3 linked regions of the Homo sapiens genome follow. The protein of the gene in region 3 purifies or fractionates together with the protein of the main gene of each other region. This does not show direct contact. Each region holds a gene or a part of one and is shown on either strand. Other genes may lie near its edges.

The links.
Region 1: the proteins of SLC6A2 (region 3) and RAB5B purify together in Homo sapiens (affinity purification with mass spectrometry; one large-scale study listed by BioGRID and IntAct). This does not show direct contact.
Region 2: the proteins of SLC6A2 (region 3) and CLPTM1 purify together in Homo sapiens (affinity purification with mass spectrometry; one large-scale study listed by BioGRID and IntAct). This does not show direct contact.

What each region holds. Positions count from the first base shown.
Region 1 is NC_000012.12:55,980,548-55,984,277, forward strand, and holds part of RAB5B (ras-related protein Rab-5B), read left to right. Parts: intron 1-3,730. UniProt on the Homo sapiens protein: The small GTPases Rab are key regulators of intracellular membrane trafficking, from the formation of transport vesicles to their fusion with membranes.
Region 2 is NC_000019.10:44,961,835-44,965,564, reverse strand, and holds part of CLPTM1 (putative lipid scramblase CLPTM1), read right to left. Parts: intron 3,603-3,730; coding exon 3,490-3,602; intron 1-3,489. UniProt on the Homo sapiens protein: Involved in GABAergic but not glutamatergic transmission. Binds and traps GABAA receptors in the endoplasmic reticulum (ER).
Region 3 is NC_000016.10:55,703,840-55,706,692, forward strand, and holds the end of SLC6A2 (sodium-dependent noradrenaline transporter), read left to right. Parts: 3' UTR 1-1,376; coding exon of another isoform or gene 1,377-1,433; 3' UTR 1,434-2,353; downstream 2,354-2,853. UniProt on the Homo sapiens protein: Mediates sodium- and chloride-dependent transport of norepinephrine (also known as noradrenaline), the primary signaling neurotransmitter in the autonomic sympathetic nervous system.

The sequences.
Region 1 (3,730 bases), on a different chromosome or scaffold from region 3:
AAAAGCCTCATCCACATTCATACTGGATTTAGCACTAGTTTCGAAAAATCGGATTCCATGCTCTCGAGCCAACTTATCGGCCTGCTCCTTCTGCACCTTCCTCTTGGCCTCCATGTCACATTTGTTCCCTAGCAAGAGGTGCTCCACCCCAGCTGAGGCATTCTCCATGATGCTTTTCATCCAGTTCTGAATATTCTCGAAAGATTTCTCATCCGTGATGTCGTATGCTAGGATAATGCCCATGGCTCCACGGTAGTAGGCAGTAGTTATTGTCTTGAACCGCTCTTGGCCAGCTGTGTCCCAGACTTGTAGTTTGATCTTCTTCCCCTCTATATCCACAGTGCGGATCTTGAAATCAATTCCGATGGTGGAGATGTAAGTGTTGTTGAAGTTGTCCTCTGCAAAGCGAATGATCAGACAAGTCTTGCCCACCCCCGAGTCCCCGATCAGCAGCAACTTGAAGAGGTGGTCGTAGGCTTTGGCCATGGCGGACACCGGGGGAGCCGGGGAAGGGATGGGGCTATTTATTTATTTTTGAGACGGAATCGCTCTGTTGTCCAGGCTGGAGTGCAGTCGTGTGATCTCGGCTCACTGCTACCTCTGCCTCCCAGGTTCAAGCAATTCTCGTGCCTCAGCCTCCTGAGTAGCTGGGATTACAGGCACGCACCACCACACCCAGCTAATTTTTGTATTTTTAGTAGAGACAGGTTTTCACCACGTTGGCCAGGCTGGTCTCAAACTCCTGACCTCAGGTGATCTGCCCATCTCGCCCTCCCAAAGTGCTAGGATTACAGGTGTAAGCCACCACGCCTAGCCCAAATTGACTAATTGTATGTGTCTCGGTTTCCTCACCTATAAAATATAGAGACTGGACTAAATGACCTCTAGACTGGCTCTGATCTGCCTGACTGACCTTAAGGCTGACAACTGGTACTGGGTTGGACTCCAGTGGCTATATATACCGAGAACTCTGTCTCTGTTGATAGGTGATAGACTTCTGGAGACTTCATATGTATTTGGTTTAGGGACTCAAAGCTAACAAGTGGAAGGGGGCTTGAGGAATGGAGTCTTACTCTAGCTGGGACTGCTAAGACACTTTTACTGTTATGCCTACTTTGCTGCACTGCTTGGGAGAGTTGCCCACATTAAAGAACATCCTCCATGGGTCTCCTGCATCTAGTGGGCTAACCCATGGTCAGGCCTCAATCCTCCCTAGTTAATGGGTCATTTTATAAGTCATTCTTGTAGAGCCGTACTTCTTTTTTTTTTTTTTTGATGGAGTCTTGCTCTGTCACCCAGGCTGGAGTGCAGTGGCAAAGTCTCGACCCACTGCAGCCTCTGCCTCCCAGGTTCAAGCAATTCTCCTGCTTCAGCCTCCCAAGTAGCTGAGATTACAGGTGTCAGCCACCACACCTGGCTAATTTTTGTGTTTTTAATAGAGACGGGGTTTCACCATGTTCGCCAGACTGGTGTTGAATTCCTGACCTTAGGTGATCCGCCCACCTCAGCCTCCCAAAGTGCTGGGATTTCAGGCATGAGTCACTGCACCCGGCAGAGCTGCACTTCTAAGGGAAGTTAAATCTGATTTCTTCTCTTCTGAGCTAAAAAGGTTGAAAGGAAGAGAAACCTGCCCCATCTCCCTTTTTTTTGTCTCGGGTTTGAAGGTAATAATCATCATACCACTTGACTGGTTTACCAAAAAAAAAAAAAAAAATTAGTATTTTTGTGGGAAAAAATGAGAATAGAAAATAAATAATTGAATCTTATATGTATTATTTCATTTCTGTACCACAGAATTTTTGAGAGTCTAGCTATTATATTTTTTAAATGATACCCTTATAAACATGATAAGATTAAAGATCAAAGCTTAGAGGTGGCTCAACAATTGCTGTGAACAGGGAGGAAGGCAGGACATATTCTTTCTTTTTCAGAGGTGGGATCTCACTATGTTGCCCAGGCTGGTCTCAAACTCCTGGGCTCAAGTGATCCTCCTGCCTTGGCCTCCCAAAATGCTGGTATTACAGGCGTGAACCATGATGTGCAGCCAGAACATACTCTTAAGGCTACATATTAGGGTACGAGGTAGTCTTTTCTAAGTCAGTAGTTACTGATCTCTGAGAATCCAAGGTTGCTTAGTAGCAAGAAAGCTTGCTGACCACATCTGGGCTCTGGCTTGACTTCCCATCTCTGAGAGTTAGTGACAGAGACTTTGCAACTCAAGCGTGTCTGCAATTGTTTCCTGTCTTTACACTCCCCCAGAGCTCAAGTGATATGTTTAGCCATGAGAATTCAGTCCATTCTAACTCCCACATTTTCCTTTATTGTAGAGTAGTAACATTGAGGCTTAATATTCTACCCCTTGGATCACATGCTTTGAAATACATAAAAATGTAAGGGAGTAAGTTGAAAAAACCAGTAACTTTTTCTATTGTTTCTTGAGAGTATAGCATATATATGTCACCTGAAGGAAACTTGATCAGCTTATCATCTGTCCTTTTTTTTTTATTATGGTGTCACCTGTCTTCTCTTTTATTTATTTTTTATTTTGAGAGACGGAGTCTTGCTCTGTTGCCCAGGCTGGAGTACAGTGGCATAATCTCAGCTCACTGCAACCTCCGCCCTCTGGGTTCAAGCGATTCTCCTGCCTCAGCTTCCCAAGTAGCTGGGACTACAGGCATGTGGCGCTACACCCAGCTAATTTTTGTATTTTTTAGTAGAGACGGGGTTTCACTATATGTTGGCCAGGCTGGTCTCAAACTCCTGACCTCTCAAACACCAGAGTGAGACTCTCTCTAAAAATGGAAAATAAATTTTAAAATGTTATAATTAAAGATACTCATTTAAATTGAATAAATTTAGCTTTATGAAAAATTTGCTGTATCATCTTTATTTTGATCCTTTCGTCATAGGCCATTGAAAACTTAATCATAAAATGGTACATGTATATCTGAATTTTTAAGACTGACTGACCAAGGGGACTACAGAATACCCAGTAGAATCAAAGTAATTGTCATGTTCCTCTGTATTAATCTAGTCTACTTTGGGACCTTGAGTTCTCACCTCTCATTCTTTTGCTAACTTCCTCTTTACCCTTTAGTTATGTCTCCTTTTTTTTTTTTTTTTTTTTCCAGAGATAGCGTCTTGTTCTGTCGCCCAGGCTGGAGTGCAGTGGTGTAATCAGCTCACTACAACCTTCAACTCCTGGGCTCCAGTGATTCTCCCACCACAGCCTCTGGAGTAGCTGGGATTACAGGCACATACCACCATGCCCAGCTAATTTTTTTAAATGTTTTCTAGAGACTCAGTCTCGCTATGTTGCCTAGGCTGGTCTCAAACTCCTCACCTCAAGCAAGGCTTCCCCTTTTATCTCCCAAACCCCTGGGATTACAGGCATGGGCCGCTCTGCCAGGCCTGTTTTTTCTCTTTTTCTTTCTCTGTACCACTTTCATATTGTGGCTTCTTCCCTGCCCCCGATCTCCCCCCTACCCACCCCAGGTGGAGTCTTGCTCTGTTACCCAGGCTGGAGTGTGGTGGCACGATCTCGGCTCACTGCAACCTCCGCCTCCCGGGTTTAAGCAGTTCTGCCTCAGCCTCCCGAGTAGGATTACAAATGCCGGCCACCAACCACACCCGGCTAATTTTTTTTTTTTTTTTTTAGACTGAGTCTCGCTGTTGCTCTGTCGCCAGGCTGGAGTACAGTGGTGCAATCTCAGCTCACTGCAACCTCCAC
Region 2 (3,730 bases), on a different chromosome or scaffold from region 3:
TGGGATTACAGGCGTGAGCCACCGCGCCCAGCCATGATTGTTTTATTTTTATTTTCTCTTTTTTTTTTGAGACTCAGTCTTGCTCTGTCGCCAGGCTTGAGTGCAGTGGCACGATCTTGGCTCACTGCAACCTCTACCTCCCAGGTTCAAGTGATTCTCCTGCCTCAGCCTCCCGAGTAGCTGGGACTACAGGCTTGTGCCACCACACCCAGCTAATTTTTGTATTTTTAGTAGAGATGGGGTTTCACCATATTGGCCAGGATGGTCTCGATCTCTTGACCTCATGATCTGCCTGCCTCGGTCTCCCAAAGTGCTGGGATTGCAGGCGTGAGCCACCGCACCTGGCGGGATGATTGTTGTAAACATCTCTGCTGTGCAATTCCTTCTATCTCATAAGTAGGGAAGCTGATTGCCTAACTGCATGGTGTGGTCTCTTATTTTGCTAAAATACATCTCCAAAAAGCAAAAAAAAAATAAAAGGAATATCTATTTTGCAGAGGAGTAAACAAAGGCTCAGAGCAAAGAAGGTGACTGTCACTAGGTCTAGGCAGGAAGGATAGAACCCAGTGCCAAGCATATTCCCCCGCCACCACCCAGCATCTCCCCAGGGCCTCAAACAGAAGCTGGGCTTTGAAAAAACAGGCCCTGGGGTCCCACTGCCCAGGAATAGCATGTGAACCCACAGGTAAAAGGGTCACCACCAGGCAGTCACAGAAGGACAAATGCTGTCTGATTCCACATACAGGAGCTAACTAGAGTAGTGAAAGAGAGACAGGAAATAGAAAAGTGGCTGCCAGGTGTTGCAAGGAGGAAGAAATGGGAAGCTTGTGTCTGATGGGTATGGAATTTCAGTTTGGGAAGAGTAAATTCTCGGGATGGATAATGGTGATGGGGGCACAACAGTGGAGATGTACTTAATGCCACAGGACTACATACTTAAAAATGGTTAAAATGGGCCAAGCGTGGTGGCTCACGCCTATAATCCCAGGACTTTAGGAGGCTGAGGCGGGTGGATCACCTGAGGTCAGGAGTTAGAGACCAGCCTGGCCAACACGGCAAAACCCCATCTCCACTAAAAATACAAAAATTAGCCAGGCGTGGTGGCAGGTGCCTGTAGTCCCAGCTACTCAGGTGGCTGAGGCAGGAGAATCGCTTGAACCCAGGAGGCAGAGACTGCAGTGAGCCGAGATTGCACTACTGCACTCCAGCCTGGGTGACAAAGTGAGACGCTGTCTCAAAAAAAAAAAAAAAAAAAAAAAAAAAAAAGGTTAAAATGAAAACATAGGTTAAAATGGTAAATTTGATGTTATGTGCAGATGTGGGCTGAATCATGTCTCCCAAAATTCATATGTTAAAGTCTCAACCTTCAGTACCACCGTGACTAGATTTAGAGACAGGGTCCCCCCAACTTTTTTTTGCGATAAGGTCTCACTCTGATGCCCAGACTGGAGTACAGTGGTGTGATCTCGGCTCACTGCAGCTTCAACTTCTGAGGGTCAGGCAGGGCCCAGTGGCTCACGCCTGTAATCCCAGCACTTTGGGAGGCTGAGGCGGGTGGATCATGAGGTCAGGAGTTCGAGACCAGCCTGGTCAACATAGTGAAACCCCATCTCTAATAAAAAAAAAAAAAAGCAAAAATTAGCTAGGCACTGGGTGCAGTGGCTCACGCCTGTAATCCCAACACTTTGGGAGGCCAAGGCGGGCAGATTGCCTGAGGTTGGGAGTTCGAGACCAGCCTGACCAACATGGAGAAACCCCATCTCTACTAAAAATACAAAATTAGCTGGGCATGGTGGCACATACCTTAATTCCAGCTGCTCAGGAGGCTGAGGCAGGAGAATCGCTTGAACCCAGGAGGTGGAGGTTGCAGTGAGCTGAGATCGCGCCACTGTACTCCAGCCTGGGAAACAGAGCGAGACTCCATTACAAAAATAAAAATAGGCTGGGTGCGGTGGCTCACACCTGTAATCGCAGCACTTTGGGAGGCCAAGGCAGGCGGATCATGAGGTCAGGAGATAGAGACCATCCTGGCTAACACGGTGAAACCCCATCTCTACTGAAAATACAAAAAATTAGCCAGGTGTGGTGGCGGGTGCCTGTAGTCCCAGCTACTCGGGAGGCTGAGGCAGGAGAATGGCGTGAACCCGGGAGGCGGAGCTTGCAGTGAGCCAAGATTGTGCCACTGCACTCCAGCCTGGGCGACAGAGCGAGACTCCGTCTCAAAAAAAAAAAAAAATACATAAAATAAAAATAAAAAAATTTCCAAGGCTCAAGTGATCCTCCTACCTCAGCCTCTTGAATAGCTGAGACTACAGGTACGTGTCACCATACCTGGCTTTTTTTTTTTTTTTTTTTTTGAGATGGAGTCTCACTCTGTCCCCAGGCTGGAATGCAGTGGCACGATCTCAGCTCACCGCAACCTCTGCCTCCTGGGTTCAAACGATTCTCCTGCCCTCAGCCTCCTGAGTAGCTGGGACTACAGGCACGTGCCACCACACCCAGCTAATTTTTGTATTTTTTTTGTATTTTTTATTTTTTTTGAGACGGAGTCTTTCTCTGTTGCCCAGGCTGGAGTGCAGTAGCGCGATCTCAGCTCTCTGCAAGCTCCGCCTCCCGGGTTCACGCCATTCTCCTGTCTCAGCCTCCGGAATTTTTTTATTTTTAGTAGAGATGGGGTATCACTATGTTGGCCAGGATGGTCTCGATCTCTTGACCTCGTGATCCACCCGCCTCGGCCTCCCAAAGTGCTGGGATTGTAGGTGTAAGCCACCGTGCCCAGCCAGATTTTTTTATTTTTAGTAGAGACAGGGTCTTACTATGTTGCCCAGGCTGGTCTCAAACTCCTGGGCTCAAGCAGTCCTTCCAACCTGGCCTCCCAAAATGCTGGGATTATGAGGGTGAGTCATTGTGCCTGGCCCAGATAGGGTCTGTAAAAAAGTAAGGTTCAGTGAGGTCATTATGGTGGGTACTAAGCCAGTATGACTAGTGTCCCCATAAGAGGAGCTTAGGACACAGACACACACAGAGGAAAGACCACATGAAGACACAGGGAGAAGACGGCCTTCTGCAAGCCCAGGAGAGAAGCCACAGAAGAAACTGCCCCTGCCCACAGCTGGATCCTGGACTTCCAGCCTTCAGAACTGTAAGACAATGAATTTCCTATTTCAGTTGTTTAAGCTACTCCGTCTATATTACTTGATACAAGGGCCCTAGCAAACTACTTCAGTATTTTTTGTGTTTTTATTTTTTCACAAATCAGGTAGCCCCCCAAAAACCAGAACAGGTTCAGGGAGACTCCCTACTTCAGTATGTTTTACCAGAGTAAAAAAAAGGTTTAGAAAACATTCCATCATACAAAAAAAAAAAGAAAAAAAGCAACTCTACCATACAGTAATGATCACCATCCTCAGCTGATCAGCTGACTTTTCCTTTCTTCCTTATTTTTATTTGAATGTTTTCGGTGAACAAACCCAAGTCCCGTCTGCTCACCTAAACAGCACACCTTTGATGACCTGCCAGGCATTGGGTGCCGGCTGGGCCGGTGGGTTCTGAGGCTGGGTCTCCGCTGGCGGGTCCCTCCCGATGCTGCCATTGCTGGTCACCTGTGGGGGACAGAGGCCAGGGTAAGGAGGGAGAATGGACACGGGGGCTGTCTTAGACACCATCATGCATGAAGGCCAGGCACAGGCTGGGCAAAGAGTGGGTGCTTATCAATAACTGGAGAATGAAT
Region 3 (2,853 bases):
TGAAGAGGATTATGAGGGGACCAGGGTGGGGCAGGGAGATGGTTTTGTCTCCCAGGGTCCTGAGGTTTCCTTGCTGGGTCGGGGTCCTCAGGTCATTCTATAGATAAAAGAGGGAAAATCAGGAGACTTTGAATCTTTCTGTATAAAAAGGTCAGCTGAATGCCTGAGACAGCCCAGGTGGCAGGTGTCTTGGAGCCCTGTGAACAGTGAGGCTTAAGAATGGAGAACAATCAGGTCGGGGTCTGGGCCCCATTAGTGACTTTATATCCTCCCATAAAAGGTAACTTCTTCCTAGGTGTTACCATTTTTCTTTTCGTTTTTTGTTTTTGTTTTTGTTTGTTTGTTTGTTTGTTTGTAATAAAGCACTTTAATGCACATTACCTGCCATCTGCCCAGTGAGGACTGCAGGGCTATAGCTTCTATCTCCCCATTTCCCAGGTGAGAGAACCAAGGCCCAGCATTTTAGTCACTCTTGCTCAAGGTTTTTTAGCAACTAACAGATCGAGTTGGGCCTTCAATTCACATCCACTGACTCTCAGCCCAGATTATTTTGAATATTCCCTGCACAATAGGGTTCACCCCACCCAGGACTGTCATTTTTAAAAAACTCATTCAAACCGCAAAGGAAAATTTCTTAGCAAAAGAACAATGTGTTGGAGGATGGGAAGGGGCGAGAGAATGCCATTTATTTTCCTCTAGCTGGTTTCCAGAGAGGAAATTATTTAGCTGCTCTCTTTTGATGAAAATAATCACTCTTTGGAATAGTTGGATGTGAAAAGCTGAGTCTACTTGGTTGAAATGAGAGCAAACAGTCAGCAAAGCCTTTTGCATTAGAGCAGGGTCGTGCTTCCGAGAGAGCCTGCCATTTCCTCTTTGCCATCTGCATGTGGCCCCTTCTGCCTCCAGACATTTGTCCCGGGGTGAATCGGAGATGTGGTGCTAGCTGAACCAACACCAAACCAACGCAGTGGTGCTGCCTTGCGGCGGAAGTTGGCTCCTGAATCTGGGATGGGAACCTGGCTCCAAGCCTGGGTCCCCTGGGAGGGTGGGGGTACCCAGAAAGCCCTTGGAAGTTCTCGGGGAGGTGCTTGGAGATCATTTGGGTTTACCTTTCCACCCACATTTAATGGAGAGAGAGTATGGGCTTTATGTTAAGTCATCTTTGACTTCCTTTTTGTAGCTTGTTTTTAATAGCAGAGGTCACCCGGGACAAGGGTGCTGTGTACTGTATATGACACTTGACGCTTTTGATATTTTTTCAGGTTTTTAAAGAATTATTATTTTTCATGAAATGTAAAATATCAGTTTGAGAACATCACATTTACGTCTACTCAATGTCTAGTTATTTAGCACCCACCTTTTAGCTTTCATTCTAGATGAAAACGAGACAAGGGAGAAGGAGAGCTACCAACTCTTGCCAGATATCCTGCTGAACAGAAATCCCTGAAGCTGCCTTAATTCTCAAAAGGAGTTACCGCTCAGCTGGGAGCCAGTTCCTGCTATATGATCTGTTTTCTAGCCTCGCTAATGTGAGACTGAAGCATTCTTACCAAAGAAATCATTTCCTAGTAAAGAAGCCCATTGAACTCACTTTATTTGTTTATTTCCTTCGAAAGCCACCGAAGAGAGAAAAACAGAGAAGGTGTGTAGTGTGGCGGAAAAAGCACAGCATATAGTTTTACAGACTTGGGTCTGCAGCTGACTAGCTGGGTGGCCTGGGGATAGTGGCTTCATCTTTTGGGGCTTCAAGATTCTTTGTCTTTAAAATCAGGGGTTATATCAGATCATCAAAGTTCCCATTCCATTAAAGAAAACCCTGCATGTATCCATAATGATGCTCTCCTGTTAAATTTACAATGAAGGAAACACATCACTTAACTGTAAGAATTTCCCAAAATGAACTGATGACCAGTGATCTCTCTATCAGAGAAATGTCAGATTTCTAGCCTCCAGAACTTTGATTTTTCTGGACATTCAATAGTTCCTCTTTCTCAGATATTTTTCAACTGATGCCAGAAACACTTGGTATTTGTTTTTAATCCAACCCTTTTGTTTTGAGGCTTTGGAGGGTAACACATTTTCATACCCTGTGAGTCCCAGGATCCACAGCTCTGCTGTGGTCTTAGAAGCCACTGAAACATTGGTGAATGTGAAGTCACTTTTGGGGTGCCTGCCCTCATCCCTCTGTCTCTCTGCTTCCGTGTAAATAAAGACTGTTTCAATTGTGTCCTCTCTGTGTCATGGACTGTTCCAATGTCATGCAGATTTCTGTGTCTGATATGGATTTTAAAAGTTGTTCTCTTTGTGGAATATAAGTGTACAGAATAATAAATAATGTTTCCTGGGCTGTGTATCTGGTAGCAGAGTTCTGAATGCTTTCTTCCATGAAGGTGGAATGCTACAAATTATGTAAGGGAGGTGGGTGTATCTATGATCAGCTTCCAACTAGTAAAGAAGAGCGTCTGGTCATAGTGACCCACCTTTTAATCAAATAACTCTTTTTATAACCTATGGAAAAGGAGATTGGAAGGAGTTAAATCTGTAATCTTAGCTTTGAGATTAACATATATTTTTAAATAAAAAGAGGGCACCAAGTGATACCAGGTTTAGTTTAGTTTAGTTTTCATTTCTAAGGCTGTTTCAAGGAGCTCAGAACCTCCTGTTGGATTGAATTAAATACACAATTTGGTGCATGTGTGAATTTTTCTGGGGAGAGGGATACATTCACATTTAGACCTTAGAAGATCTAAGTCTTTGTTTGGGGAAGATGTAAGCTGAGTATTGTCATTGTTTGGAGAAGATGTGAACTTATAGGTAATTATTTTTAATGCAAGCCAGCAAATAGATAGTGAT